Regions from separate parts of the Homo sapiens genome. Here region 1 is linked to region 2. The links come from fine-mapping of genetic effects on gene expression. A gene starts in region 2. The other region holds a variant in brackets. All regions are shown on one strand. Distances are from middle to middle.

The links. PIP is the estimated chance that this variant, and not a neighbour inherited with it, causes the effect.
Region 1: its variant is fine-mapped to the expression of ATP11B in lung (TOPMed, PIP 0.91).

Annotation. Positions count from the first base shown.
Region 1 is chr3:182,860,944-182,876,529 of GRCh38, reverse strand. ATP11B (ATPase phospholipid transporting 11B (putative)) reads right to left here. Exons shown (of 30, transcript NM_014616.3): 13 at 10,832-11,074; 14 at 10,087-10,262; 15 at 9,086-9,154; 16 at 7,379-7,452; 17 at 7,199-7,302; 18 at 3,993-4,174; 19 at 2,515-2,718. Among named protein-coding and RNA genes, the nearest start is that of ATP11B, 75 kb to the right of the region's middle. The variant A/G (reference allele first, on the strand shown) is at 6,652.
Region 2 is chr3:182,786,422-182,802,007 of GRCh38, reverse strand. ATP11B (ATPase phospholipid transporting 11B (putative)) reads right to left here and starts at 8,504. Exons shown (of 30, transcript NM_014616.3): 1 at 8,222-8,504. The coding sequence starts at 8,248. It overlaps ATP11B-DT (ATP11B divergent transcript), which reads left to right and starts at 8,644. Exons shown (of 3, transcript NR_187316.1): 1 at 8,644-8,928; 2 at 13,582-13,858. RefSeq lists enhancers at 2,135-2,635, 2,636-3,136 and a silencer at 7,920-8,669.

The DNA of each region.
Region 1 (15,586 bases), 75 kb before region 2:
TTATAAATTACCTAGTCTCAGGTATTTTGTTACAGCAGCACAAACAGACTAAGACGGCAAGCCTAAAATTCACTTTAAGAGTGTACTCTACGTTTTATAATACAGCTTTTGTACAGAAAAGAAAACAAATACTAATGATTAGCATATTCATTAAAACCACCTATATACAGAAGACTTAAAGAAAATAGCCTAAATTACAAATAATAATCTTCTGATGACTTTGTTATTAACCACTGCATAAGCTTTACAATTTTCAGTATTTTTCAAGTAGACATTTATTATTTTTATAATCAGAAAAATATTTTTTAAAATTATTTTTATTTTTTAGGCAAGAGCACAGTTCACTGTAGCCTTGAACTTCTGGGCTCAAGTGATCCTCTTGTCTCAGCTTTCGGAGTAACTGGGACTACAGGTACACACCCCCACACCTGGATAATTTTTAAATTTCTTGTGGGGACAGGGTCTCATTACATTGACCAGGCTGATCTCAAACTCCTGGGCTCAAGCGATCCACCTCAGCCTCCCAGGGTGTTGGGATTACAGGCATGAGCTACTGTGCCCAGCCAGAAAAAAATATTTAAAAAGGCATATATAAAGTAAATGATTCTGAGCAATTAATTTCTGTGTTTTAGGGAGTTCATGATATTGCAGTATTTAAACGTTTAAATAGCCACAATGTTGTTGACACTGTCCCCAAATTGTAGTATAATTACCTAAATTAATTGTCTTTTTGCACTCAAAGATCCAGTGTGACCCTATTTAAGAGATATTTTAAGAAGACCCTATATGGGCCGGGTGCGGTGGCTCACACCTATAATCCCAGCACTTTGGGAGGCCAAGGCAGGCAGATCACCTGAGGTCAGGTGTTCGAGACCAGCCTGACCAATGCAGAGAAACCCTGTCTTTACTAAAAATACAAAATTAGCTGGGCACGGTGGTGCATGCCTGTAATCCCAGCTACGCAGGAGGCTGAGGCAGGAGAATCACTTGAACCCGGAAGGCGGAGGTTGTGGTGAACCGAGTGCGTCATTGCACTCCAGCCTGGGCAACAAGAGTGAAACTCTGTCTCAAAAAACAAACAAACAACAACAACAACAAAACAACAACAACAAAAAATCCCCTGCATGGTCTTTTTAAAATATCTCTTAAATAGGTTTTAAAAAGATGAAATCCAGACTTGGTATCACATAAATGCCTGCATAAAAAATATAAATAGAAAACACTGAATGTATATTAACAACTATGGTATTTGTCTCTTGGTATTTATTTTTCTGGATTAGTATCACAAGACAGCAAACAACAGAAACCTGCAGGAGACCTAATATGCTTACATACAAGCAGCTCTGATGGTCAAATGAAGCCCTTCCTAGTTTACTGTGAAAAATTAGACTGTGTTAAATGGGGCATCATTTGCCCCCATACAGGGCAAAAATTTGATATGCCTATAAAAGATAGATTTACAAAAAAGACAGAATTTAGAGTATAAATTCTTATGAAATAATCTTGAACAATTAAATGCAGCTTAATTTCCCAGTTTGGTCATGCAAACTAGATCAGGGGTTGGCAAATGTTTTCTGTTACGGGCCAGAGAGTAAATATTTCAATTTTAGGTTTTGTGGGCCAAGAGGCAAAATTGAGGATATAGGTAGTTACAGAATGAGAGGAAAAAATCTCAACAAAATTTTCACTAAGATAAAAATGTAGTAATCATTGAGTATAATTTTTTAAATAAGAGAGGTTTACTAATGAGAAGAATGAAAATACTTCTTTTGGGCAAGGGATAGTACTTTGTTTAATTGGGGTTCAAAGTTAACATTGCAAATGTTCATCTGTTAATGTCCATCTGTAACGAGATTTTTACATTTCCATACGATAGAACTGTATGTAATGAGATTTATAATTCATCTTTGAAAATGTCTTTTCAAACAGGTAGCACAGCTAACATATCAATGCATAATAAACAATGCTTTGCCATCTAACTCAAAAATAAAATAATCCCCTATCCACAGTGCTTCAAAAAAAATCGTAATGTTAAAAGTCCACTTTTCTTTTCTTGTTTTGACATGATGGCCATATACTAATAAAAAACAGTAAAATGTCGCAACATGGTGCTATGCATGGCACTCCAAACACTATCACATTATATGTATCTCACTGTGATTTGTAGAGTATCAAACAGCAGTGTAAAGCTGAAGAGAGAGTATTTTGTAAAGTCTCTGCTGCAACTACTCAATTCTGATGCTGTAGTGTAAAAGCACTCATTGGTAATATGTAAACAAATGAATGTGATTGTGTTCCAATCAAACTTTATAGACACTGGAATTTGAATTTCATATACTTTTCACTTCATGAAATATTCTTCTTCTTTGGATTTCATCTATCAAAAAATGTAAAAACTACTTTTAGCTGATAGGCTGTAAAAAACAGGCAGTGACAGTGGGCTATATCATCGGGCCCAGGGAACCATAGTTTGCTAACCCCTGAAAGGTATGATACAGGTTCCTATATTCTTACCTTCTGGCAAGCTGCCTCAATTGTTCAGCACACTCGCTGTCTGATTTCTGGTTTATAAGTTCAAGGATGTTCATGGTTCTATGAAAATGGCCACATGATAAACTCACACTAACAGCTGTTTCATGTTTATCCCCAGTAAGTACCCATACTTTGATACCAGCCATTCTCAATGCTTCAATAGTTTCTCGAACTTTATCTTGTAGTCTGAAAAGAACAGAAACAAATTAGTAGTAGAGAATACTTTTATGACTGTATTTTAAGTTAAACTACATAGTATATTTAAGGATAATTCTAAACTCTTTGACTTGACCTAGGAATGTTATTATACAATATAGCAATATAACTGGAATTTTCTCTCATTAGGAAGGAAACACGAATAAACAGATTGGTAATTGTCTGGTTAACACAAAATCAACCAATTAAAATCTACAATTTCATATTTTAAGAATGTATCTTCAAAGTTGCTATTCATAGGATGAAACTATGTGCTCTTCATAAACTCCTGTTTTATTACGAAGTCTTACATTTCAAACAAGAAGATTTTTCTCCTTTTGTTTTGATTTAAAAAAATATCTCAAACCACTCATATAGTTAAAAAATCAGACTGTAGAAAATAAAGGTCTAGCTAACTTTAGGTGAGTCTCAGAAATCTCGTAAGGACAACCAAAAAGTAAATGAAAACATAGATTTTAAAAATATGCAAACACCCTTAGGTCTAGGTGGTGGAGGCAAACATAACAACAAACTTAATCTGCAGAATTCAATCTCAGAATTCAGCTAAATTTAAGAAACTGTGAAACAGACATTGAGATAGGTTCTGGGAACAAAGACAAAGAATAAATGGACTTCAAGGATTTCACAGGTTAACAGAGGAGAAGTCTTTAAACAAATAATTATAATATAGTGCCACAAAGACAACAACAGAACTACCTACAATGAGACTTCACAAAGAAGAGAATTTTTAATCCTCTTAGGTGTCAGGAAAGGTCTTACTGGACTGGAGCTAATATCTAAGCTATACTTTATGAATAGGTAGTCACAGAGGGATGGTGAAGGGAAGAATCACCCAGGCAGAAGGCCAACATAGGCACAAAACAGAATAGTTTTAGCTACAGGTGGCATGCAGAGACAGTTTGGTATTGTTGAAACATAAAGCGGAAGGAGACAGTGGTAGGAGGGAAGGCTGGAGAATTAAGCAGGTGCTTCAAGTGTTTGCATGACATGCTGAGGAGTATTCTAAAGATTCAAGCCTATAAGAAAAAACTATAGAGAGCTAGTTTCTTTCATCCATTTCAGGTATCTAGCTAGAACAAAAATTGTACATACTGACCGGGAAAAATTAAGGCTTTAGTTCTCTACTTTGATCTTAAATATATCATGGGATGTTAGTAAAGAGAATTTATGTCACATATTAGAATACTTGGTTACAAAAATTCCTATGAGAGAAAAGTAATATTTTTTAATTATCTGATACTTACCTGTCTTCTACTGCTGTGGCTCCAAGTAATATCAGGTCTTTCTCTATGAACTGGAAAACAGCTGCCAATTTCTCTTCCCGCTGCTGCAAGGCAGTCCTGGCTTCAAATATGCGTTTATCTATTTCCTCATACTCTTTTGATGTAAATTTTCTATATGCTATACACAGAGTTCTTAGCCCTTTCTAAAACAAACAAATAAAAATTAAAGACAAAAATTGAACACAAACAACAAACAGAAAATCAAGAAGTCACTATCAAAATACACTGAAGACCTAGTACCAAAAGTCAATCACAAATCATTTAAAAAGTACTATCACCTAGTGACAGGAAATAAATAATGTCACAAAGCTCTACTGATCTGAGTTATGGGACACATATACCTCTTTCAACTTCTGATGTTTTCTTAAGAAGTTGCTCAAAATAGGCTGGGTGCGGTGGCTCACGCCTGTAATCCCAGCACTCTGGGAGGCCAAGGCAGGCGGATCATGAGGTCAGGAGATCGAGACCATCCTGGCTAACATGGTGAAACCCAGTCTCTACTAAAAATACAAAAAATTGGGCGGGCATAGTGGCGGGCACCTGTAGTCCCAGCTACTCAGGAAGCTGAGGCAGGAGAATGGCGTGAACCCGGGAGGTGGAGCTTGCAGTGAGCCGAAATAGCATCACTGCACTCCAGCCTGGGCGAAAGAGCGAGACTCTGTCTCAAAAAAAAAAAAAAGTTGCTCAAAATAATTAAGGTCACTGAATTGTAGAATATTAGAGCCTAGAATAGATCATAAAGACTATCCTATTAGTGGTTTTTAAACTGTGTTACATGGAAAGCCAGAAAGTTCTTAATACCTTCAAGACTGTCAAGAGAGAGAGACAGCTGCAGGTTCTACCTTCCTGTTTTAACTTACAATTCCATTTTTTACCTACTTCGTACAATTTTCTAAAGCAAAGGAGACCATAATTTCCTAAAGATTCATTGCATGACAAAATTTACCTTTCAAATAAGTCAATAAAATGGCCATTATAAAAAATACTTTTTAGATTTACCAAATAAATGATTTTAAGTAATATATCTTCACCAGTGAATTGGAATCAGAATTGATTATCTGGTTCTACTAGGGCCAAAGTTTTCTTATAGTATTCATCTCTGAAAGTTGATATCTAAATCTAAAGACTTATAAAAGTTCCTTTTCTTGCTACATGCATTTTCCTCAAGAAAACCAATAATAAATATTCTTTTTTATTTTTAGAGACAGGGTCTTGCTCTGTTGCTCAGGCTGGAGTGCAGTGGTGTGATCTTGGCTTACTATAGCCTTGAACTCCTGGGCTCAAGTGATCCTGCTGCCTCAGCCTCCTGAGTAGCTAGGTCTACAGACATGTGCCACCACGCTTGGCTATGTTTTATTTTTTTGTAGAGATGGGGTCTTGCTACATTGCCCAGGCTGGTCTCAAACTCCTGGCCACAAGTGATACTGCCTCAGCATCCCAAAGTGCTGGGATTACAGGCATGAGCCACTGTGCTGAGCCCCATAATAAATATCCTAATAACAACTTGGAAAGCGTAGACTTAAAAATACTATATAACATTATTTAGCAGATTTCTTTTTTTTTTTTTTTTTCAGACGGAGACTTGCTCTGTTGCCCAGGCTGGAGTGCAGTGGTGCGATCTTGGCTCACTGCAAGCTCCGCCTCCTATGTTCAAGTGATTCTCCTGCCTCAGCCTCCCGAGTAGCTGGGACTACTGGTGGGGTTTCATCCTGTTAGCCAGGATGGTCTCAATCTCCTGACCTCGTGATCTGCTAGCCTCGGCCTCCCAAAGTGCTGGGATTACAGGTGTGAGCCACCGCGCCCAGCCCTATTTAGCAGATTTCTAAATATTGCCATTCCCTGACTTATAAATGACCCATACCTATAAATGTGCTTCTTTTAATTAATAGTTAAAAAACCATCTGTTATTAATATATGAATTAATTCATTCTATAACAAATACTTACTGAGCACAAACTATGTGCCAGCATTATTTTAAATATTAAAATGGTGATAAGGTAGAACAATGTCTTTGTTCTCACAGATGTTACGATGTGGTGGGTAAACTGGAACATAAACAATTAGGAAACAAATAATGGGAAAAAAATCATAAACTGTTAAAGAAGGCAGATGAGCAGAGGTGAGTGTGGAGCACACATTCACAGAAATGCAAAAATGAGAGATCATGAAGTTCTAAGACTGAGAGAGAACTGCATAATAATTTTGCCATTTACATGAATGATGGCTCTTTGTTTTAACAAGATTCCCCTATATTTTTAAATTTTGTAAATGAGAGATATAATTCACCTCTTCAAACAGTACAAATCAGTGTTATATCGCATATTCACAGAGTTGTGCAATTATCACCACTATCTAAATCCACAATATCTCATTGCTCCCACGAGGACTCTCCTTTTTCCCCTTCCTCCAGCCCCTGGCAATCATTAATGAGCTTTCTCTGTGAATTTGCCTATTCTGGATATTTCATATAAATGTAGTATTAATATAAGGCCTTTTTTGACTGCCTCTTTCACTCAGCACACTCTTTTCAAGATTCGTCCATGTTGTAGCATATATTGGTACTTCATTCCTCTTAACAGCTGACTGATATTCCATTATATGGATATACCACATTTTGCCT[A/G]TCCACTTGTTAGCTGGACATTTGGGGTTTTCCATTTTTGTGGCTATTGGAAATAATGCTGCTTATGAACATTTCGTGTATAAGATTTTTTTGTGAACATGTTTTCAGCTGTCTTGGGTGTCCACCCAGGAGTAGAACTGCTGTGTCATATAGTAACTCAATGTTTACCTTTTGAGGAACTTAGCCAAATTATTTTTCAATGTGGCTGTACCATTTATAATCTTACCAGCAATATGTGTATAAGGGTTCCAGTTTCTCCACATCATTAGGATTCCCCTATGTTTGTTTAATAAACACTCTTCTAAAATAGCATAGTTTGAGTAGACCTTGTAACCAGAAATGCCCCGACTGTAGAGTAGGTTTGAAGAGAAGATATATTTTTGCTTGCGTTAAAAGTCAGTTTTCACAAAAGGAATGTGGAGCCAACACACAGTGTAACACAACTGCAGAATGTCCACAATTTTTGATAAATTATAAGAAATAAAGTCCAAAATATTTCATAAATATATCTTTTAGAGTTTTTTAAATCATAGAAATTTGCACTCACCAAAGCAAATTCATCTACATGAATTCTGGTTTTTTCTATTTCTCCACCTATACATTTAGGGAGAATTGATGACTCAGCTCCTTTAGCAAATAATAACTTCTCACCTAGAGACAAAAAAAATGAGTTATCAGACTCTTAATATTACATAAATAAAAATTCATGAAAGTTTAGATTGGTTACCTGAAGGTGCCTGAACAATTACACTCATTCTCCTACGATCTGAATCAAATTCCAGAATATGAAGCAGTTTGTACCTAAACAAAAGAAAGTAAGAAAGACAAAAACTTTACTTTTTTTAAAATAATATTAAGTGACTATATGGAAATAATCCATATATAAGATAAAATGGCTAATTGAGAACAAGAATTAATACCATTTTCATGATGATAGGTTACATGCCATTAATAACAAAACAGGGAAGAAATAGAAGAGACTGACATTGAGTAATTACCAAATGCCATGTATTTTACACACCTTATGTCATTTAATATCCATGAGAGGCCAAGAAAGTAGGTCTTATCTCATTTTTATAGATGAGGACTATTAACCTCAGAAAGATTAAGTAATTTGCCTAAAGTCAGGTAAGCTTGTGAGTGGCAGAGCAAGAACTGGAATCCAGATCTGCCCAGCTCCATGTTTTTCTGACTAAAAAAGGTAACTGATTCTCAACGCTTTTTTCTGTCCTAATACACCTGACAAACACAACACACATTAATATCAAAGGCTCATTATAGCAGTGACTGTGAACCTGGGTGTGTGTGTGCGGGGGTCCATTCCCTCGTGCCTCTCTAGGGAGCTGTAAAAGAATTTGTGTGGCTACATGAGGTGTGGCTTAAAGTCTTCCAGATGAATCTTACACAGTGATTTACATATGAAATCTTTACACATCTCCAAGAAAAACAGTGAGTTGAATAATGGTTTATAAGTTGATAAAATAAGCTAGACAGGCTCTCACATGAAAGTAGCCAAAGAATGGGCCCTATCTAGTATGGAAAAGCATAGTTTGGAAAAGCACAGCTGGAATTGACATATGATCAGAATTGCTAAAACCATGAAAGGAGTAAGTATATTAAGCATGAACTAATTTATCAAAGAATGGAAAAACTAGATATAGACAGCTGTTCCTTCATGTTTGAAAGATAAAAATCACAGGAAATACAAGGAAAGTTTTCTTTATTCAGTGAGAAGAACCTATAAAACTCACTACCCAGAAGCATCTAAAAATAAACATACAAGTAAATTCAAGAATCATTAAGTTAAAATATAGATGAAATATTCAAAGCATACTATTGTTATAACTATGATGAGATACAATATAATGTTAACATCATTCTAGAGCAGAGTTCAGTAACTTTTTCTGTAAAGGGCCAGAGAGTAAATATTTCAGGCTTTGCAGGCCATACATGGTCTCTGTTGCATATTTTACCTCTTTTTAAAACAACCCTTTAAAAATGTAATGTGGGCCAGGCACAGTGGATCACACCTGTAATCCCTGCATTTTGGGAGGCCAAGGTGGGTGGATCTCTTGAGGCTAGGAGTTTCAGACCAGCCTGGTCAACATTTCCACTAAAAATACAAAAATTAGCCAGGCATAGTGGCGCATGCCTGTAATCCCAGCTACCTGGGAGGCTGAGGCACAAGCATCACTTGAACCTGGGAGGTGGAGGCTGCAGTGAGCCAAGATTGTGCCACTGCACTCCAGCCTGGGTGACAGAGCAAGATTCTGTCTCAAAAAAAAAAAAAAAAAAAAAAGTAATGTGACTTGTGGGCTGTAGAAAAACAGAAAATATAGGCCACATTTGCCCTGTGAGCTACAGTTTACTGATCCTTATTCTATACTATATACACTTAACACAGAAAACATTCCAATATATGAAAAAAAATTACCGTTCCAGTTTTCCAAGAGTTTTAACCTCCATAGTTTCTTCAGAATTGCCAATAAACACAATACCAATCCTAGACATCAAAAGGATAAAAAAGTGAGACTTAAGAAATAATACTGCATATTTCACAATGTCACTATAGCTTAACTTGAATAAAAACATTTAAAATCAAAGTTCAAAATGCATTTAAAAATATTTCCTTTTAATATTACAACTTTGGTGCCAGGAGTGGTGGCTCATGCCTGTCATCCCAGCACTTCAGGAGGCCAAAGCGGGTTGATCACCTGAGGGTAGGAGTTCAAGACCAGTCTGGCTAACATGGCGAAACCCAATCTCTACTAAAAATACAAAAATTAGCCAGGTGTGGTGCCCTGTGCCTGTAGTCAGTCCCAGCTACTCAGGTGTCTGGGTCAGGAGAATGGCTTGAACCCCAGAGGCTGCATTGAGCTGAGATCACACCACTGCACTCCAGCCTGGGTGACAGAGTGAGATTCCATCTCAAAAAAAGAAAAAAAAATATATATATATTTTATATATATTCTTATATATTCTTTTTAATATATATTTTTATTTATATATGTTATATATAATAATTTTTATTTATTACTTACATATTTTTATAAAATGTATATAAAAATATATAAATATATATACACATACACAAACATATATATATACTTTTAAGGACTAGAAGGATTAGAAGGATCAGAGTAGGTGTAGTACAACATATGCACAAGCATTTTTAATAAATTCTATTACACAGATTTTTATAGTAATCAGATTTTCAAAGAGATCTTAAAAAAAGACTCAATGCAAGCTTGATAATAAAATGACTTCAAATTGTCATTTAAAATTTAAATTGTACTTCTATTTTTATGTATTTATATGAATTCTGACAACTTAAAATGACGAATTTATGTTTGAAAATTTTAAATGATGATTCTAATATTGTTACATTTATTTAAATGGTGTTTTTCCGAAGATTTGGAAATCAGACTAAATTACCTTGCAGCAGCTTCTACTAGAGCCTTTTCATCTGGTGAAGATGCATAGTACTCCAACTGCGATGGTGCCAGGTTGGATTGCCAGGGACCATCACCAGTGCAGTCAGTTTGAACATTGCTAATCTGTACAGTGTGACAGAGACTGACTGCTTTAAAGAAGAGATCATGTTCTTTAATCTGTAAAAATGTAATTAATATTCATGATAAAAATATCATTTCCACATACCATTTAGGAAACCAGAGGCAAAATTCTAAGATCTAGAACAAGAGTGCTACAACCTTGATTGCCTGAATAACAGTTGGTTGTTTCTGCCTTCAAAAAGTAAAATGTCACATTTGCTTAGGACCCTTCAACACGTGAGCATCTTTTTAGGAGGTACAACCACATTGCAAGTAGAGGGGAACACTTTTTTATAGAAGAAGTGAGGTCTCAAAAAGTATTAAATAAATTTAAGCTCTATTTTTCAAAGAAAGTCTTCTTCACTTCAAGGCAGTAAGGGCTTTTCTTAACTACGTTCCATTTAAATACTCAAAGAGCTAAGGCAGACACGTATTAAATAACAAGTTAAACTGGGCTGTAACAACAAATTCTTAGGATTATATTTTATATTGTTGAATCAAATATATGAATTTCAAATGTATATTCCTTGCTCTACTGACACAAACTTTTTTTCCTGCAACTCATCAACTACTGAAGAGAATTATTTCATATGAAACCCTTATTTATTAATTTAAAAATTACTTACTAGTTCAGTTTCATTTTCAGGACTGGTTCTGAAAGAGGAACTGGTTGTAAGATGGGATAAGTTGTTAAGATGGGATAAACTACTAAGATAAGATAAGTTTCCTTCTGAAGAGTCTGGTGTTGGTCCTTCGGGTACAAGTCTACCATTAATTTCTTGGTATTTCATGCCATTAATTGAACATTCCCGAAACTGCATCTCATTTTCTGTCAGTGTACCAGTTTTATCTGTAAACACGTACTCTACCTATAGAGATAGAAAACAAAAGAAAATAAACCTTTGTGTTCATGGTCCTATGTTAAACAAGAAAAAAATCTCTGTCCTCGCTCTCCTGAAGTCCAGTTTATCTATTAATATTGATATATGGATGCTGAGATTCTTATAATCCAAGCACAATTAAATAAATATAGATGCCAAGGAAAGAAAACAGGGTAACACAAAATAGTTTAAAGCTACATAGATTTTGAAGTTTGTGGCATCTTTACGTACATGTTTATCTGTAGAATTGACGAGAATTTGGTATTAATGCTTCTTTTCTTTTTCTTGGCTAAGGTATTTTAAGTAGTAGGACTCTAAGAATTATCTCTAAAGCAGGGTGGAAAGGATGCTTAATAATGTAGAATGGGAAAGGGTATCCGAGTGAGGAGAAATAGTGCAGAGCTAGGAATAGGAATACACAGTGATAGTGACAGCAACACAAGAAGTTAGAGGTGCGAATTGTCTAAAACAGAGAGAAGTTGAAACTGAGGACAGAAAACAAATTTAGTGAAAAAAATCGATGTTTAAAAGAAAAAAACATATTTTTAAAAGTAAGTAAGACAAATTATTTTATTACTTTTGGAGACTAATTCCAGAAAAAGTACTTTAAAAGAAAGTATGTCCATGAAAAAAGAAGGATGTAATAGTCAAGTCTTGATCCAACCAGGATCATCATGAAAATCTGATTACTGCAATAATGACTTGAGAAAGAAGTCCTTTAAAAAGGGATGTAGAAATCACAAGAAAAGAAGCTACAGATCAACATCCCTTATAAAGAGATGCAAATCAAATCCAGAAACATATAAAAAGGGTTATATACTACAAATATGTGGGATTTATCCCAGAATTGCAAGATTGACTCAACACTTAAAAAAATTAATGTAATCCATCATATTAATAAAATGGTACCTGGCCTTCATTTTATTGATAAAATAACCACCAAAATAGGTACAGAAAAAGCATTTGATAAAAATCCAATACCCTTCATGATAAAGGCGTTCAACAAACTGGAATAAAAAGGAACTTCCTCAGCCTGATAAAGGGTATCTATAAAAAACTCACAGTTAACATCGTACCTTATGGAGAGAGACTGAATGCTGTCTTCCTAAGATCAGGAATAAGACTGCTTTTGTCACTTTTACTCAACATTGTACTTAAGGTTCTAGCCATGACAATTAGGCAAGAAAAGGGAAATAAAAGTTAACATGATTGGAAAACAAGAGGTAAAACTATCTCCATTTGCACATGATATGACCTTGTATACAGAAAATTCTAAAAAACTGACTAAAAAAAATAGAATATATAAGTTCAGCACAATTCCAGGATAAAAAGATCGATATCCAAAAAGAAAGGTAGGGTTAAATTTGGCAAAAAATTACTTAACTTACCTAAAGTCAAAAAGCAAATAAATGGTGAAACTGGAAATAAGAGATAGAATACTTTATCTTTACTATTTGATATTAAATGTTGCCCAGTATTTATAGCAATGTTGAACTGGAATTTAAAGACCCCATGCAAGTTAATTAAAAAAAGCCCACACATGTAGATCAGGAAGAATGAGGGATGAGTTATACAGAAAATATATAAGATACATTAGCAATCAAACAGAAATAATACTCAGAGGTTACTAGAATACAGACTGCACTATCAGTCATGGAGGATTCTTTAGAAAAAAGATTAGATGGTAGGGATGGATAAAATAAATTAACTTTGATTTAAAAGTATATATATATATATAAAATCAAGAAGTTTAATCTTTTAACTTTCATGATAAACAGGTCATCACTGTAAACCTTCCTAAGAGTTGTTTTTTGGATAATATGGAAATGAAAGAGCACAGAAGAATATGAAATAAAGTAGATTTCATTGGTAAAAGACAAAATAGGAATAGAGGCAGTAAACATACATTAAATACTTGTAGTTTCAAAAGCAAAAAGAGAGGCTGAGAAAATCAGTAATTAAAGAAATAATCACCAGAAGTTTCTTAAAGACAAAGCAGACATGAGTATGCATACACAATGTGAGGTTCCAGGAAAACAAAAATTCTATCATGAAGAAAAAAGGAGGGGAAGAGAGTTGAGAAAGAAAGGTCAAAGGCAGATTGGAAAAATTTATTCAGAAAAGTAAAAATGGGCCTTTAGGCCTTACATATATAATATGTAATTAAAGAAATGTGACATGAATTAATATTTAACATAAATTATTAAGGCCTCCTAAATGTTACTAAAAATAAATGGATTGGCCAGGCGCGGTGGCTCATGCTTGTAATCCCAGCACTTTGGGAGGCCGAGGCGGGTGGATCACGAGGTCAGGAGATCGAGACCACGGTGAAACCCCATCTCTACTAAAAATACAAAAAATTAGCCAGGTGTGGTGGCGGGTGCCTGTAGTCCCAACTACTCGGAGAGGCTGAGGCAGGAGAATGGCGTGAACCCAGGAGGCGGAGCTTGCAGTGAGCCGAGATTGCACCACTGCACTCCAGCCTGGGAGACAGAGTGAGACTCTGTCTCAAAAATAAATAAATAAATAAATAAATGGATCAACTTGTGGTTAAACATGACAGGTTGAGCACATTTAATTATCTCTGGTTCTCTTAAAACTTCACCATGAGGATAAAAAAAAAAACAGAAAAAGAACAAAAATAATGGTAAAAAAGTCAGCATGAGAGGGAAGATTGACACAAGTTTGGAAGATGGAAAAGGAGATGAATGAGTGGTAACTGATGTACCAGAACTTAGAATCTGAAACCCAAGTGATGAGAAAACCCATTCTCAGAAACGCTCAGGAAGTAGACCTACCAGCTACCCCTGAATGTGGGAGTACAGGATGAGGCTGAAAATACAAGCTATCAGGAGTAGTTTAAATTCTGAAATCTCTTTAAAAGTTGCAAACTTCAGAACGCCCCTCATTTATTGGAGCAACAGCTGGAAGGTGTATTCCCCTAGTAGGCTGAACTGGACAGAATCTGGTCTCCGCAGACAGCTGAACACAGAAGGGAGGCAGTGCACTAAAAACAGGTATCCAATGGCCAGCTCTAGCAGCCATAAGCAGCAGAAATATTACCTGCTGGGCCTGTCAGCTCATTACCTTAAGGTGTGGCCCACTGAATCAATAGCTTCTGATAAGCATATTAGTGCCTGAGGTTTTTTTTGTTTTTTTTTTTTAGACAGGGTTTCACTCTTGTCACCCAGGTTGGAGTGCAATGGCACAATCTGGGCTCACTGCAACCTCCATCTCCTGGGCTCAAGTGATTCTCCTACCTTAGCCTCCCAGGTAGCTGGGACCACAGGCACACACCACTGCGCCCAGCTAATTTTTGTATTCCAGCTAGTATTTGTATTTTTTGTTTTTGTATTTTTTTGTAGAGATGGGGTTTTGCCATGTTCTCCAGGCTGGTCTTGAACTCCTGGGCTCAAGTGATCTACCCACCTTGGCCTCCCAAAGTGCTGGGATTACAGGCATGAGCCACTGAGCCCAGCCTTTCATTTTTTTTTTTTTTTGAGACAGGGTCTCACTCTGTTGCCCAGGCTGGAGTGCAGTGGTGTGACCAGGGTTCACTGCAGCCTCGATTTCCTGGGCTCAAGTCATCCTCTCACCTCAGCCTCCTGGGTAGAGTACTTTTAAATTTGAAATGATAGCCAAAGATTAGCATCCATTTGAGGATCACTCCTTACATAAAAGGTAGAATCTGAAACAAATTATAATCAGTTCTGTTGTAACACTGTCTTGAAAACACAAATTTATCCCAATGCAACTGATACAATAAGAGACAATTTGAGCATAATCAAAACTTTGTGCAAATTTTGCCCAAAACTCAGTTACTAGCTATCTCAGTTCACCATGTGTTATGAGTCACACTCATCCACATCTGGTATTACAACCTTCCCTCTGATTTCAGATAACCTTCCCTTTCACACTTCACAGTAACACTTAAGTTGCAACCCTTCTGATGCCTATCTTCCACAGGCAAACTTCAGGTCCAGGTAAGTGCCGTATTTATTGAAGCATTTGTGTATTCATGAACAATTTGGCAAGTGCTGTTTTTATTAGGTTCCTATCTTTTAAAAAATGTATTATTAGGCTGGGCACAGTGGCTCACACCTGTAATCCCAGCACTTTGGGAGGCCAAGGTGGGAGGATCACCTGAGGTCGGGAGTTTGAGACCAGCCTGACCAATATGGAGAAACCACGTTTCTACTAAAAATACAAAATTAGCCGGGCGTGGTGGCACATGCCTGTAATCCCAGCTACTCGGGAGGCTGAGGTAGAAGAATTGCTTGAACCCAGGAGGCGGAGGTTGCAGTGAGCCAAGATTGCGCCATTGCACTCCAGCCTGGGCAACAAGAGCAAAACTCCGTCTCAAAAAAAAAAAAAAAAAGTATTATTGTTTTTGTGTTGTACCCCTAATCCCATTCTCTCATAAACCCTGTGGCTTTTACTAGGCAATTTTGCATTATGCAGTGAATTTTAGGAACGCATATATCACATTATAGCAGAACT
Region 2 (15,586 bases):
ATTTTTTGATTCATGTGTCTTTCTTTGATTTCTTCTCCCCACAGAGGTATCCATAGAAAAAGAGCAGTTGACTTTTAAAGAACTACATCTCCTGCTTAGAATTTGACAGATTCTTAGTAAATTTATTAGCAATACATATTATGCATGTACCTTTTATTATTAATATAACTGAATTAAATCAAGAGTTAAGGGGAGAGTTTTACATTAACTTATATTAATAATCACTGATGTAACTGACATAAAATAAAATTTCTACACTTGTAAAAATAAGAATTTGAGAATGGAAGGAAAGGAAGAAGCGATTTTGGAGATAAATACAGAAATATTTATGGGTAAAATTATATAATGTCTGGGATTTGCTTCAAAATCACTAAAGGGAGTGAGGATAGTGGGTGGGGGGAATAGATAAAACAAGATTGGTCATGTGCCGATAACTGTAAAAGTTGGGTAAAGGATAAATTATACCATTTGCCCAACTTTATACCATAAAGGGGCTCATTATACCATTATCTCTACTTTTGCAGGTGATTGAAATTTTCTATAACATAATGCTTAAAGAAAGAATAAAAATAACCTGTACCAGCTTTACCGGCTTCACACAGTAAGAATAAGCTACATATATACAACATCTGTTTCTGTTCCTAACTTTTCCAAAATGTACGTGAATGAATGAATGATTGATACCTATGCATATCATCCTATTCTTCCTCCTTTCCTGAGGGGGAACTTCACTTCCAATTAAAATGTGGAGACAGACACAGCTTAACTAATTAATATCCTTAATTTGGTATTTCATCTAAATTTTGGACAATCTAATAGTTTTAAAGAGAAACAAGTATGATTATCTGCATAAGCCATAACTTAATGTTAAGGAGGATAAACTACATGCTAAAAATTTCAAAGGAAGGCCTGGTGGGATGGGTCACACCTGTAATCCCAGCACTCTGGGAGGCCGAAGTGGATTGATCATCTGAGGTCCAGGGTTCGAGACTGGCCTGGCCAACATGGCGAAACCCTGTCTCTACTAACAATACGAAAAAATCCGTTGGGCATGGTGGGACGTGCCTGTAATCCCAGCTACTCAGGAGGCTGAGGCAGGAGAATCACCTGAATCTGGGCGGGGCTGGGGGGGGTGGGGGGCGGAGGTTGCAGTGAGCGGAGATCGCGCCACTGCACTCTAGCCTGGGTGACAAAGCGAGACTGTCTTAAAAAAAAAAAAAAATCAAAAGAATTTGCCAATACCATGTATAGGATAAGAAAATACGAAAATTAAAAATTGTACAATTTTAAGTGAGCCAGTCAGCAAAAAAATTTGTGTTCTAGTTTTCTCCTAAGCACACCCAAGAGTCAAACAGTTCCCTCAGAGCCATTCCCAAGTGCTGAGAAGTAACAGAAATTCAATGCATGTCATTCACAATACAGGTGAATGTTTACTGAATGCATTATAACCATATATGCAAAAAAATTAAATACAAACATCGTCTGGGCACAGTGGCTCACACCTGTAATCTCAGCACTTTGGGAGGCTGAGACAGGAGGATCGCTTGAGTCCAGGAGTCTGAGACCAGCCTGGGAAACATAGTGAGACCCCCACCTCTACAATTTTTTTTTTTTTTTAATTAGCTGGGTGTGGTGGCAAATGCCTGAAGTCTTAGCTACTCAGGAGGCTGAGGCAGGAGGATCATTTGAGCCCAGGAGTTTGGGGTTGCAGTGAGCTGTGATCACATCACTGCAGTACAGCCTGGGAGACAAAGTGAGGCCTTATCTCAAAAAAAAAATTATATATATAATTTCTAACTTGAAGTATTGGCTTAAAAATAAGTCTCATAGTATTTCCCATATAAATATCCAATCAAGAATGTTTTTGTTTCTTTCTTTTTTTTAATTTTTATTTTTTAGAGACAGGGTCTTACTCTGTCATCCAGGCTGGAATGTACTGGCACAATCATAGCTCACTGCCGCCTTGAACTCCTGTGTTCAAGCAATACTCCTGCCTCAGTCTCCCAAGTAGCTGGGACTAAAGGCAGGCACCGCCATGCCCAGCTAATTTTTAATTTTTGTAGACACAGGGTCTCACTATGTTGCCCAATCTGGCCTTAAACTCCTGGCCCAAAGCAATCCTCCTGTGTGTCTCCCAAAGTGCCGAGGTTACAGGTTTGAGCCACCACACCTGGCCTAGAATGTTTTTCTTATACTAAATTTTATAACAGAGAAACTCCAGGAAAAAAAGCAAAATAAAGAATATCTGAGAATAAAATCTTTCAACTATGTTTATAAACTCAAATCTTGAGTTTCATTTTGATATTTTTTAAAAAATACACGTTTACTTCCTTTTGAGAATAAAAAAATTAAAATTAAACAATAAAAATGCACATTTCTAGTAAAAACTAAGCTAATTATGAATATTATCTTGCTTAGAATGATCAGCACTCGGGCCGGGCATGGTGGCTGACGCCTGTAATCCCAGCACTTCCGGAGGCCGAGGCGGGCGGATCATGAGGTCAGGAGATCGAGACCATCCTGGTAACACGGAGAAACCCCATCTCTACTAAAAATACAAAAAATTAGCTGGGCGTGGTGGTGGGCGCCTGTAGTCCCAGCTACTCCGGAGGCTGAGGCAGGAGAATGGTGGGAACCCAGGAGGCGAACTTGCAGTGAGCTGAGATCGCGCAACTGCACTCCGCCTGGGCGAAAGAGCGAAACTGTCTCCAAAAAAAAAAAAAAAAGAAAGAAAGAAAGATCAGCACTCAGACAACTGCAGAAACAAAATGAAGAATAAACAGCATGGCTAAATCTAGAACCCCACAGCAGTCGATGTTGACTTGATAAATTATTTCCAAGGGACCAGATGCAGTTAGTCTATCAGGCAGCTTCTAGTCTCTTAGATATAATGCAGACCAACACTCTGAAAATAGAAAACTCACAGAAAAAAAGCCTGGGTAAAGTCATAAAGTCCTTAGAATCAAAAACTTTCTTGAATCTGCCTATGCCAGGCATTATATATTGTTACCATAATCTAAAACAATGCTGTAGAACAGAAATATGGCCTAAGCCACATATGTTAATTTTCTTAGTTTCCACATTTAAAAAAAGGTAAAAATAAACAAGTAGCATTTAATATTTAACCAAATACATGTATATTTATATAACCCAATATAATTTCAACATGTAATCAATTAGAAAATGAATGAGATATTTTACATCCTTTTTCCAAACTAAGTCTTCAAGATCCACTGCATATTTCATTCACACACATCTCAATTCAGAGTAGACACACTTCAAGTGCCTACATTTCGACAGCCATATGTGGATACCATGTTGAATAGCACAGGTCTAGAAAACATTTAATGACAATAATGGTAATCATAAGGCTCTTTAGAGGATCTGGAGCAAGGTCCCTACTTCAGTGTTGCTGGGAATACCTGAGTTTCCTCTAATGCTTTATCCTCTTCCTAACCAAATGCAAAACTGCGTATCTAAGAATATATGTCTGAAAATAGAGATAAAGCAGCACATACTCACAGATCTAGGTTCTTAAACATTAATTCTTGAGGTTAAAACTTATCCACAAAAAAAATACCACCCTAGGCCAGTGCTTCCTTTTTCTATTCCTTCATTCATTCCTTGGAAAAGAGGCAGAGAATGCAGGTATTTTCAAACTGATGCTGAATTAGATCTGATACTCATTCATTTATTCAACCAACATTTGGCAGGTGAATACCTACAATGGGCCAACTGCTGTCTTGAGTGTAAGGAATATAAATACAAGTAAGATATGGTTCTTATCCTAAGATATTTACAGTCTAGTCTAGTAAGTGAGATATCTAGACTTCCACAATGTGTTCTGTAAAAACAGGAGCTCACTATTCTTTTCAGACGGTCTCACTCTGTCACCCAGGCTAGAGTGTGGTGGCATGATCATGGCTCACTGCAGCCTCAAACTACTTGGGTCAAGTGACCTTCCCACCCTAACCTTCCAAGCAGCTGAGACTACAAGTCAGTACCACAATGCCCAGCTAATTTTTTTTTCTTTCCTAGAGACAGGATCTCACTATTCTTACCAGGATACAGGAATTCACTTTTAATGTTATACAGCAGCACTAATAGAAATAGAACATGAGCAACAGATGCAAGTCACGTAGGTAACTTTAAAATTTCTAACCACTTTAAAAAAAGTAAAAAGAAACAAAATTCCAAAAATTTATTTTACTTTACCTATATATGTAAAATATTATAATATCTCAACATGTAACTAACAAAAAAATGAGAGTTCTTTTTTCTTTTTTCTTTTTTCTTTTTTGAGACAGAGTCTCCCTCTGTCACCCAGGCTAGAGTCCAGTGGCATGATCTTGGCTTACTGCAACCTTTGCCTCCCACGTTCAAGTGATTCTGCTGCTTCAGCCTCCTGAGTAGCTGGGATTACAGGTGCCCATCACCACGCCAGGCAAATTTTCGGATTTTTAGTAGAGATGAGGTTTCACCATGTTGGCCAGGCTGGTCTCGAACTCCTGACCTCAGGTGATCTGCCTGTCTCGGCCTCCCAAAGTACTGGGATTACAGGAATGAGCCACCTTGCCCGGCCAGGTTTTACATTTTTTAATACTGTTTTTGAAATCCAATGTGTATTTTATACGTAAGAATAACTCTACTCAAACTAGCCACATTCCAAATACATCAGCCAGCACAGTTTTATAGATCTGTTTTTCAGAAAATTAAAAAGAATTTGCCAGTTACAGGTACAGGAAAAAGTAGCAGAGAGGCTTGAACATGTTCACAAGTTAAGAGAAAAAGTAAAGAGAAAGAAAAGAAACATACTAATGATAACTGATGGAGTATGGACAGCAGAATGAAAGAAAAGGATCAAAAGCTTAAGTGGAATTGTTATCTTGGAAAAGAGGGTTGCATCTTCCTTGTGACTGTGAAGGGAAGAATTAAGTACCAGTATAAAATATAAGCAAGTTCGGTGAGTGTGAGGAAGAACAGAAAGTTGAGGGAGTTCAGATTAAGACCTTCTCATTTTTCTCAGTTAATCAGAAGACAATCTTAGCAGCCTCCTACCACCATCGCCAATACAATCTAAAGGGATTACATTTATGGAACAGTTTAAGAAACAGTTATCCTAGTAATACTGTTTTTGTGTAATTACTCATTTTCTAACTTTTTTCTGGGCTAGTCAATCTTAAATTTGGTCATTTTTGTCTCTAAACACAGAAACAACACTACAGATTCATTCTTTCTTTCCTCATCTATTAATTATTTGTTCAGCAACATGTATCCAATGTCTACTTATGTAGAGTATGTGTGACCCTGACCAACATTTGTATCCCTGGTATTCAGCATCTGTTAATACCAGCACACAGCAAGTGCTTTAAAAATGTAGTATTACATTCAAATATGTACTGACACAGACTTTCATTTAAAAGTCTAAATTGGTGCTGTCCAATAGAATTTTCTGTGATAATGAAAATATGAACTGTCCAATATGGCAGCCAATGGCAGCCAATAGACACATGAATTCAAATTTTAATTTTAATACCCACATATGGCTCCAATTTTAATTTTAATGGCCACTTGTGGCTAATGGCTACCGTACAGGTCTAAATATTAGAATACAGTGAGTAGCTAATGGCATTTCCATAATTATAATCAAGGTATTGTCATCTCTAATGAGTTAATACATAAAATATGGTACTGAAAATGAGTATACTTTGAATAATACTAACTGTACCACAAAGACACCATAAGAGAATTTTCTTAGTGTCAAGTAACTTTAACATTGTGTGCCAAAAAGAAAAACAAAAAAGGATATTCCAATCTTTTTATTTTCAGCCTACTTTCCCAATAGAAAAGATCAAGCTTCTGTCAACTTTCTGATTTTTCCATCTTCTCAAGTAGTGAAAATATTTTGTCATAAGGAGTCACACTTTTTTTTAATTAAAAAGAAATTACTAGAACATAGGCATTGTTTCTGTAATAAAAGGACTTTTTTGTGAGACATTAGTTGAAAATCGGGATTCATATAACGAATTAAATATGCTTATAACTCCAACCTGTCCTTAGGATTTGCTTGTCAATTTCCCCAAATTTGTCCTAGTTATCTGCATTTTAAAATAAACCCATTGCTGAAAGTCGTGGTGATTCAATCCATTAAGCCACTGGAAGTATAATCTAAACTAGCTTTTACCTGAGTTGAATAATTTCTGGTGCAGTAATCAGAATAGCTGTCTATGACTGGGATAGCAAAATATACTTTCATTACTCTGTATCCAGGGTCCTTGATGTTTAATTTATGTGATCATACAAACTTAACCAGAGACACAAAGTCCTACATTGGCCCAAGTATGATTACATACTTAGAGGATCTGATAACTTAAAACCAGTGAGGTGAGCAACTAAATGTCAGAGATAGCATTTTTTATGCACAGGAACTTGTTCAACTCGTTAACCATCCCTGTTAAGACGGCTGCCTTGTAAAATAACCACACACAACTTCCGGCCCTTCCTTTTAGCTGGGTTCATTTGAAGCCATTTTAAAAAACATTACCAGGTTTTCTGTCTTGAAGATGAGCATGGTTATACAACCAGGATTTTATTCTGGCTAAAAAATACCTAACAGTGAGAAAGGATGTCTCAATACATTTTTAAAAAAGCTTCAAGAGAACCACTTTAAAATGATCTTCCTACCACACAAAAACACCATCAGGTAAATCAGCCCTCTATACAAGAAGATTTGGCAAATCAAAAGCATAAGATCAAATCTGTAATAATTAACTTTCTGAGTAAAATTACTGTGCTACAGCTTACTGCAACAAAGCCAAAGTATTACAAGATGGTATTATAATGACATCATTAGCTTGGTTTCCTAATAAAGCATATATCTGGGATATCTGAATTTACAATGCTAAAAACAGAGACCCAACATTTGTAGGAGGGAGTGGTAGGCAGTTCTTATTTATAATTTTTTTTTTTTTTTGAGAATGATGCCCGCTGCAAAACGAAGTAACAGAAGGCTGGCTCTGAAACACCACACTTCTTGGTCTTAACGTTAAAATGCTTTTCTAGAGCAGAAGGGAAAAAGAGTTATCAGTGCTTTCGTCCCACAAAAATAGTTCCTGTTTCACTAAATTTTACCACTGCCTTTAGAATTAGTAAATGAAAACGCCAACTTGTAGAAGCATTAAGTTAATGCGATTTAGAAATTAAATAGTAACCGGCCTCATCACACAGATAAGGTTAGGCTTCTTCAGCCAGGGGCAATTTCTGTCCTAATTGTCACAGCTGCCTTAATGCTGTACTTTCTGCGCTGTAGCTGCCAGGAGGCAGATAAGATTTTTCTCTCTGAATTAATTCTGGGAAAGGTGGCACTTTTTATAGGCCTTAAATGACCCTTTTCTAAGATTTTTTGTTGGTGGTGTCCAGATGTTCCAATAATACTGGAGAGTTAACTATTCCTTCCAAACCTGTGTCGTTCAAACTGCCTTGAGGAGAACGGGAAAAAAGTAAGGTTCACACTCGAAAAGTTTCACTCGGGGTGGGGTGAGGACGAGGTAGGAAGGAAACGACAGTACGTATCGTTCGTAACTATCGTACAATACGTATCGTTTCCGAAGCTAGACCGGCAGCTGGCACAGTCTTTCCCCTTTCCAGGTCCTGGGGAGAAACGTCTCTCGCTGAGGGGGCTAGACACCTACGACAGCCTCCTCCTCGGGAATCAACACAGCTCTGGATCGTGACACGCTTCCAGAAGTCCGTGACGAGTGGGGGCAGAAGACAGGTTCTTCGCTTCCCCTTCACCCAAACACGTCCCAAATTGTTCGAGGCAGGAAGAGCACGCCTCTCTCATCTCCCCAAGACCTACTCTCGCTCAGCTCCCTCGCCCTGTTTCCTCTGGGGGCACCGCCACCCCGCTCGGGACTCCCGCCTCTGGCCACAGCAGCCCCGGAGCGGCAAGGGGGAAGAAGTAACGGAGAAGCGCCGGCTAGAAGCGGCCGCCTCCGGCCGCTCGGCGCCAGCCTCGGCGGCCCGGGCTTGGAGGCGAGACGAGCCCGGGAGCCGCACGGGGCTTCTCCGGCTCTGGGCCCCGCGCCCGTCTCCGCTGCGGCCTAGCCGGGCGCCCACGCCCTGGCCTCCCGGCTCCGCGCCGCCGGCCTTTCCCCGCCACCCCGGGCCGAGAGGCCCCGCGGGGGCGGACGAATGGAGGTGGAGGGGCGGGGGCACCTACCAGCTGCTGCCGGATCCAGCGCCACATTCCCCCGTCGTCGCCGTCCGGGTCCCGCGGGGCGCGGGGGCCGCGGGGCTGCAGGTGGAGGCCGACAAGACAGAGGCGGGAGCGGGCGAGCCCCTCGGGCCGAAGTTCCGCTTACCGCCGCCGCCGCCACTGCCTCACTCCCCGCGCCGCGTCCCCATCCCGCGGCGTCGGCCCCGAGTCCTACAGGCGCGGCCCCGGCGCCGCCCCCGCCCGGCGCAGCTGAGCCTGCCGCCGCGCCGCAGCCACCTTCATTATTGACCGTTGTCACCCAAAGCACCCCCGCAACCCCACCCCCGCCCCGCCCCGCCCGGCCCCCCGGCTCCACCCGGGACCGCCCCCGGCGCCCCGGCCCGCCCCCGGACGTGACGAAAGGGGGTGCGCGGACCGAGGGGGGCCTGGCGCGCCCCGCCGCCGTTCCGAGTTGGGGGGTTTCTGTGTTGTGGGTCCGGGAAGAAGCGAGCGTGGAAAGGTGCCGGGTTCTCGAACGCTGTTTCTGTCCACTGCCACCCTCCTCCCCGTTCTGGGAGTGGGATTAAGTCGTGTCTGTGGGTCTGGCCATCTCCGGAGTCTGCAGCTTGGGGCCGATTCCTCGGTCTCTACCTCCTGTTGCAGGTCTTTTTCGGGCTCTGTGGCTTCTTTGGTTCACGCGTCTCCCGACACGCATACGCACAGTCCTGAACGTATGTGACTGAAAGTTAATCCCCCCAGAAGTCCCAGTTTGGGTTCCATCAAGCTGTAAGAGCTTTCGTCTCAACACAAGTCAGGCCTCTTCTTTAGCAAATGGCTGAGACGGGGCTAGGGAAATCTTGATCACACCCATTAAGTGATTCGAAAGCGTTGCAAGTCCCCTGAGCCTGGTACAGCCTGGACCCGTGTTTCTAGGCGAATGGATGAGATATTCTGTCTTGCCGTGTGCTAAATTGGACAGGTTCAGGGGAAGATAATTTGTATAAAAAGGTAGTTCTTTACTGCTAACTGCCAAACTTCTGCAATCAAAAACACCCGTAGCAGTAACTTGACCTAGGTTAAAAAAGTGTGTGGATGACAAGCTCAGAAGGAATATACAAGCAACTGGAACAAGGCTTTGACTTAAAGGTTTGGCGTTGTTTAAAAGCAGCCCCGTATACATATTGTGTTATGTATATGTATTGAATGCTGTATTTTTGCTGAATTAAAGCACACTTCACCGACAGACGTTTGTGGTTAAAAAAAAAAAAATTAAGCGGCCGGGCGCGGTGGCTCACGCCTGTAATCCCATGTAATCCCAGCACTTTGGGAGGCCGAGGCGGGTGGATCACGAGGTCAGGAGATCGAGACCTTCCTGGCTAACATGGCGAAACCCCATCTCTACTAAAAAATACAAAACATTAGCCGAGCGTGGTGGCGGTCGCCTGTAGTCCCAGCTACTCGGGAGGCTGAGGCAGGAGAATGACGTGAACCCGGGAGGCAGAGCTTGCAGTGAGCCGAGATGGCGCCACTGCACTCCAGCCTGGGCGGCAGAAGGAGACTCCGTCTCAAAAAAAAAAAAAAAAAAAAAAAATTAAGCAAGAACAAATCTAAATGAGATTAGCATGACTAGGCAGGTCGTTGAATATGCATCCTCAATCTTCTAGTTTCAGTAGACATTTCTTACTATATAATGCTTATCCAGCACCACAAATAGAATCTTTCTTTGGGGATATTTATGATCTGTAAAACCAACATGGAATTTTATATTATAAATCATCCAACTTCAAAAAATAGCTAGATATTTGAAAAGTCATCTTACTTTTATTCTTGTGGCTAAACCTTACTTTATGACCCTAAAAGGAAGTTTTGAGATATATTTAGTGACAAAACCTTACTGCCATTCATGGAGCACTGTGTCCATTCATGGAGCACCCAGGTCCTGTATCAAGTTCTTTACTTGTATGCTGTAATTTAACTCCAATCAATCCCTTGAAGTAGGTATTATTCCCGTTTTGTATAGATGCAGAAATGGAGGCTCACACTAATTTGGCAAAGCTAGGATTCAGATTCTGGATTGTCAGGCAATAGTGCTCATGTTCTTAAGCTACGTCCAAAAATAAAAATATGGCCATGCCTACTTTTATTCATCTGCAAATGGTTTGATTACAAATTAGGCCTGGAAATTTTTATTTATATGCCGCTAAAATTTTTCAAGATAACATAAGAAATAGCGATCTGGAGAATACTTTGTGTATCATTATTTAATTGTGCCCCAAATTTCAAAAGGAAGAAGTTGGGAGAAGGAAGGGCTTGATTCCTAGTGCTCTGGTGGAATATGGTAAGAAGTAATCTCAGGGTAACTATGTAAAGATCAAATTGAAGCTCAAACTGTCAGGAACAGAATGAGCAGCCCAGGTAGTGTTTTAAGCCTTTTTTTTTTTTTTTTTTTTTTTTTTTTGGAGACGGAGTCTCACTCTGTCGGCAGGCTGGAGTGGAGTGGCCTGATCTCGGCTCACTGCACCCTTCGTCTCCTGGGTTCAAGCGATTCTTCTGCCTCAGCCTCCCGAGTAGCCGAGTAGCTGGGACTGCAGGTGCGCCACCATGCCCAGCTAATTTTTGTATTTTTAGTAGAGATGGGGTTTCAGCATGTTGTCCAGGATGGTCTTGATCTCTTGGCCTCGTGATCCACCTGCCACGGCCTCCCACAGTGCTGGGATTACAGGCGTTAGCCACCGTGCCCGGCCATTTTAAGCATTTTTTTAAGAGCAGTACTATACACCTCATGTTCTTACAAGGAGCATAAGATAGGAGAGCGTTTTTATACTGCAGGGGTCAAGGGAAAGCTCTCCCCTTGGCCCTCTGAAGATTTGAAGAAAAATCAACTTGAAAAAGGCAGATTAGAGAAAAGGCATATAAACTTAATGTGCACACAGTGTGCACATGGGGAGAATCATAGAGTGATTGCCAACCCCCTAAGTGGTTGACAAGCTAATATACCATCCTGGCAAAACAGGTTATGGGAGTGGGGAGAAGAGGAATTCTGTTGAGGAAGTTACTAGGGAAGATGAATGGATCAGGGAACAGAGATTAATTAACTTGTATGTTATTTTGTCAAAGGGTCTATTAGGTGTGATTACATTCTTGGTCTTACAGGAAGGGAAGGAAAAACAATTATTCCTTTTGATGGGTCTAGATCTTGGGCAGATAAAGGAACTTCAACTTCATCTTGTGCTTTGGGAGAGATGGTGGAGCAAAGAGGGGAGGCCAGAGAGATTTTGCGGCTTCTTCAGTTCAGCATGTCAAAACACTATACTTGGGATGTTGATTTCTGAGCCCCAACAATACTGTAAGTATAACCACCTGGTGGTGAAATCAGTTTAGTGTGTCATGATCTGTATTTTAAAAAATAGAATAGAAAACAGCAGAATACATGACACAGAGTAAGTACTTACACGTATTGTTTTGTGAATTTTTCATACACATGTACATCAGGTCACAATATAAAAGCAATTTCCTCCTATTGGTTATGGTTAGAAAGGTTTGAAAAACATTGAGATGGCTAAATACAGAACTTAAGGACTTAAGAAGGCAGGCACCAGCTATAAAGGAAAGGGAAAAAAATGCTTGGAGCCAGTGGTAATTCATTCAATCCACACTTATTTCTTACATGTGTTGAGCATCAAATGTATGCATAACAACTGCCTAAAACTAGGAGGAGACGCAAAGGCAACTTTTAAGGTGAGCCTCTTTTCCCTGGGTAGTTTAAAATCTAGTTAGAAAAAGAAGTTGCAGAGGGGAATCAGTTAAATAACAATCCAAGTCAGTATGGGATTAAGTCCTGAAGAACTATACTGACAGTAGACACTCATTTCAGAAAATTGATGTGAGCAATAGCAGTTGGGGAAGGCTTCAGAAGAAAGGAGCTGAATTTAAGCTGAACTTGAAGTGGGAGGATGAAGGTAGGAGGGAAAGACTTTCCAACAGGAAGAAATGCAGGAGCAAATACAGAGTCAAGAAAGCTCAAGATGTTTGAGGTACAACTAACTTGGTGTAATAAGAGGTGAGATTGGGTAAGTAAGGGGAGGCATAGTGTGGGGTGAGTTTCTGTCTAGTCATAAGAGTTTACAGGAAATGGGCAATCTCTGGAATTTTCTGATCAGGTTAATGGCAGGATGAAATCAGAGTACTAGTCCATTGACACTATATGTGATAGGTTGGAGAGAGAAGAAAGGTCAGATAGGAAGTTATTGCAAGAGTGAAACATTAAGTTGAAAAGTGCTGGACTGGCAAAGAACCAGAAGTAACAAACTGTTACAGGAAGCTGTGCTGTGATGCAGGGAAACTGGAAAGTTAAGCTGTACCAAGTGAAGTAACAGAAACTCCGAGAGAGTAAGTTTACCAGCATCTCATAACAACCACTGAATAAATGGTAAATATGGTTCTTATTGTTGAGTAAACTTGTTAATGTAATTCTGTGCTAGTTATACTGTGAGACATGATCATTCCCAAGAGAAAAACATCTCCTAGTTCAGTACAGTATTCTCAGCTATAACACAGACAAAACAAAGAGGGCTGTTTTTCTTGATGAGAACATCTTGGACCATCAATAGGAAGCACAGACTATGATCTTGTTAAGGTCGACATTTGTGGCTCATTCATTCTGGTACCCACAGCGTCTAAGGAGTACTCAGTAAATGTAAAATGAACTAAGAAAGCCAACGACCGAGTATATGGAGAAAAACATCAAAGTGATATAGAGCCAAGCACACTGAATAACTTTAGTAGATCCCAAACTATGCAGTGAGACCGGTGGTCACCATCATTTAGATCCAGGGCACTTCCTGTTGTGTGCCTTTCAGAACTCTTCAAGGGTCAGTCTGCTTGAAGGACACAGCCTCGCCAATCTGTTGCCCTAAATATTTCTATAGTGATGGAGCTATCAGATGGGCATCAGAATCTGCTCTATCTCATTTTTTAAAAGGACAACTTTTGGCTGGGTGCAGTGGCTCACGCCTGTAATCCCAGCACTTTGGGAGGCTGAGGCAGGTGGATCACGAGGTCAGGAGATCGAGACCATCCTGGCTAACATGGTGAAACCCCGTCTTTACTAAAAATATAAAAAAAATTAGCCGGGCCTGGTGGCAGGCACCTGTAGTCCCAGCTACTCAGGAGGCTGAGGCAGGAGAATGGTGTGAACCCGGGAGGCAGAGCTTGCAGTGAGCCAAGATCACACAGCTGCATTCTAGACTGGGTGACAAAGTGAGACTCCGTCTCAAAAAAAAAAAAAAAAAGGACAACTTTTCACTTCCTCAAAATCATCAATCTAGTACTAGGTTACAAATTATTCCATTTAAAAAGCATTTTCCTTCTGATTATCATTTCAGGATTTCCAGACCAGACTTTAGGCAAAGAAAGAACAGACTTCAAGCAAACTTTTCTCTACTGAATAGGATTATATATTTTATCACCTTGTGAAGAATTTCATCAGAAACAACATCTCATTGCATATTTGCATCTTTTCTTGAAAATTCCTCAAATATATCTATTGTGGGCAATTACATGAATTCATCTTTATTTTTTGGCTACTTATGCTTACACAGAACTGATACTCAAAGCCAATGTGAGAATTAGAACTCACAAAAATGATCACTTTTTTGAAAGGTGAGAAAGTACACAAAACATAAATATGTTCTGTACCTTCCTTCTTCCTTATTTTAAGTTGCCTTTCAATAACTTGATACTATCTTTGGATGAACTGGACGTGGGATTCTGTCACCTCTCTTATGAAAGACAGAATGGGGAAAAAATGAATGAACTTTGTTGTATACGTTTTTGGGTTAAGGAGGGAAGGAAGTTAAATAGCCAAGTGGCTTCTGATTGAATTACTGACAGAAATATTGGTGGCCTCAGATCAGCTGCAGCAGAACTAAAATTGTTAAAACTGTTATCGTTGAGACAGTCTGCGGCGCTTAACCAACTTTTGGGCTATCTGTGCTGCACCGTAGATCAAATTGCTTACCGTCTAGGAGGCGTTAGTTTTACAATAGTTTATCTTATAGATGTCACAAGTTTCATTTTTTGAGGTTAGATATTTTATGAGGTTTTTTTTCTGATTAAAATGACTGTATTAGGTAGGTATTTGCTAACAGCTGCTTCATAGATTTTCTGGGCTAAAGCATTCCCAAGTTGTGTTCAACGGCAAAAACCTTTGGAGTCACATTGCCCTCATATTTCTATTGGAATAGATCCAAAATTGCTGTCTAAGGAAAATCTTGGCTTACCCCACAAATATTTCCTCTGTTTCCTTAATTTTTATAACACAGCGTTAACCCCATTCCTAGTTCCCATGACTGCTAATGCAAATGAATATGCTCTAAATCGTTGACACGACTCTGCTTTTTGGATATTTTCAGAAATGCTGAGTCGCAAGAAGTAACACTTAGGGAAGATTTCCTGAAATCTGCACTGTATTTGGGTGTTCTAATTTTTATCTTTAGATTAAAAAAAATTGTGAGAAGTCTTTTTTTTTTTTTTGGATAGTCTTCTTTTGATTCCTCCTATGATTACTTTTACCAAACTGCTGTTTAGGATCACACAAATACCCTAAGTCTAGGGATGGTAGGAGACGCAGCCTCAGAAACCCCTGACTGACTGTTTTTACTGTGGAGATGCATCTGAGAACGTGCTAACTTATCACATTGTGTTCTCTTAACAAGAGCCTGCAGAAATTTAGTACCACAAATAACTGGTTTTTTTTCTTTTTTTTTTTTTGGAGACAGGGTTTCACTGGAGTGCAGTGATGCAATCTTGTCTCACTGCAACCTCCACCTCCCGGGTTCAAGCTATTCTCCTGCCTCAGCCCCCCAAGTAGCTGGGACTACAGGCATGAGCCACCACACCCAGCTAATTTTTGTATTTTTTGTAGAAATGGGATTTCACCATATTGCCCAGGCTAGTCTCGAACTCCTGAGCTCAAGCAATCTACCCACCTTGTCCTCCCAAAGTGCTAGGATGACAGGCGTGAGTCACTGCTCCTGGCCAACTGCTTTTCTTGAGCAACTAGTTTTATAATCTTGTGGGCATTTTGAATTATATAATTGAATGTGCTTCCTTTTGTTGTTGTGGTGGTTGTTCAAAAATTCAGAGGCTTACTTTTAGCCAGTGCCCAGACCCTATGGTGTACATTTTGTGAATTACTTTTACCCCAACTTCTTATTTTGTCTATTCTTAATTTCTTTTTGGTTGGTTACTTCACTTCCTTTATATCTTATTATACTGTATATATATTTTTAAGCCACCTTCAATATTTTTTGAATAGAAGAAATAAAGGAAAATGTAAGACATAATTATTCATGATTATGCCACAAAGACTAATTTTAAAATGAGGTA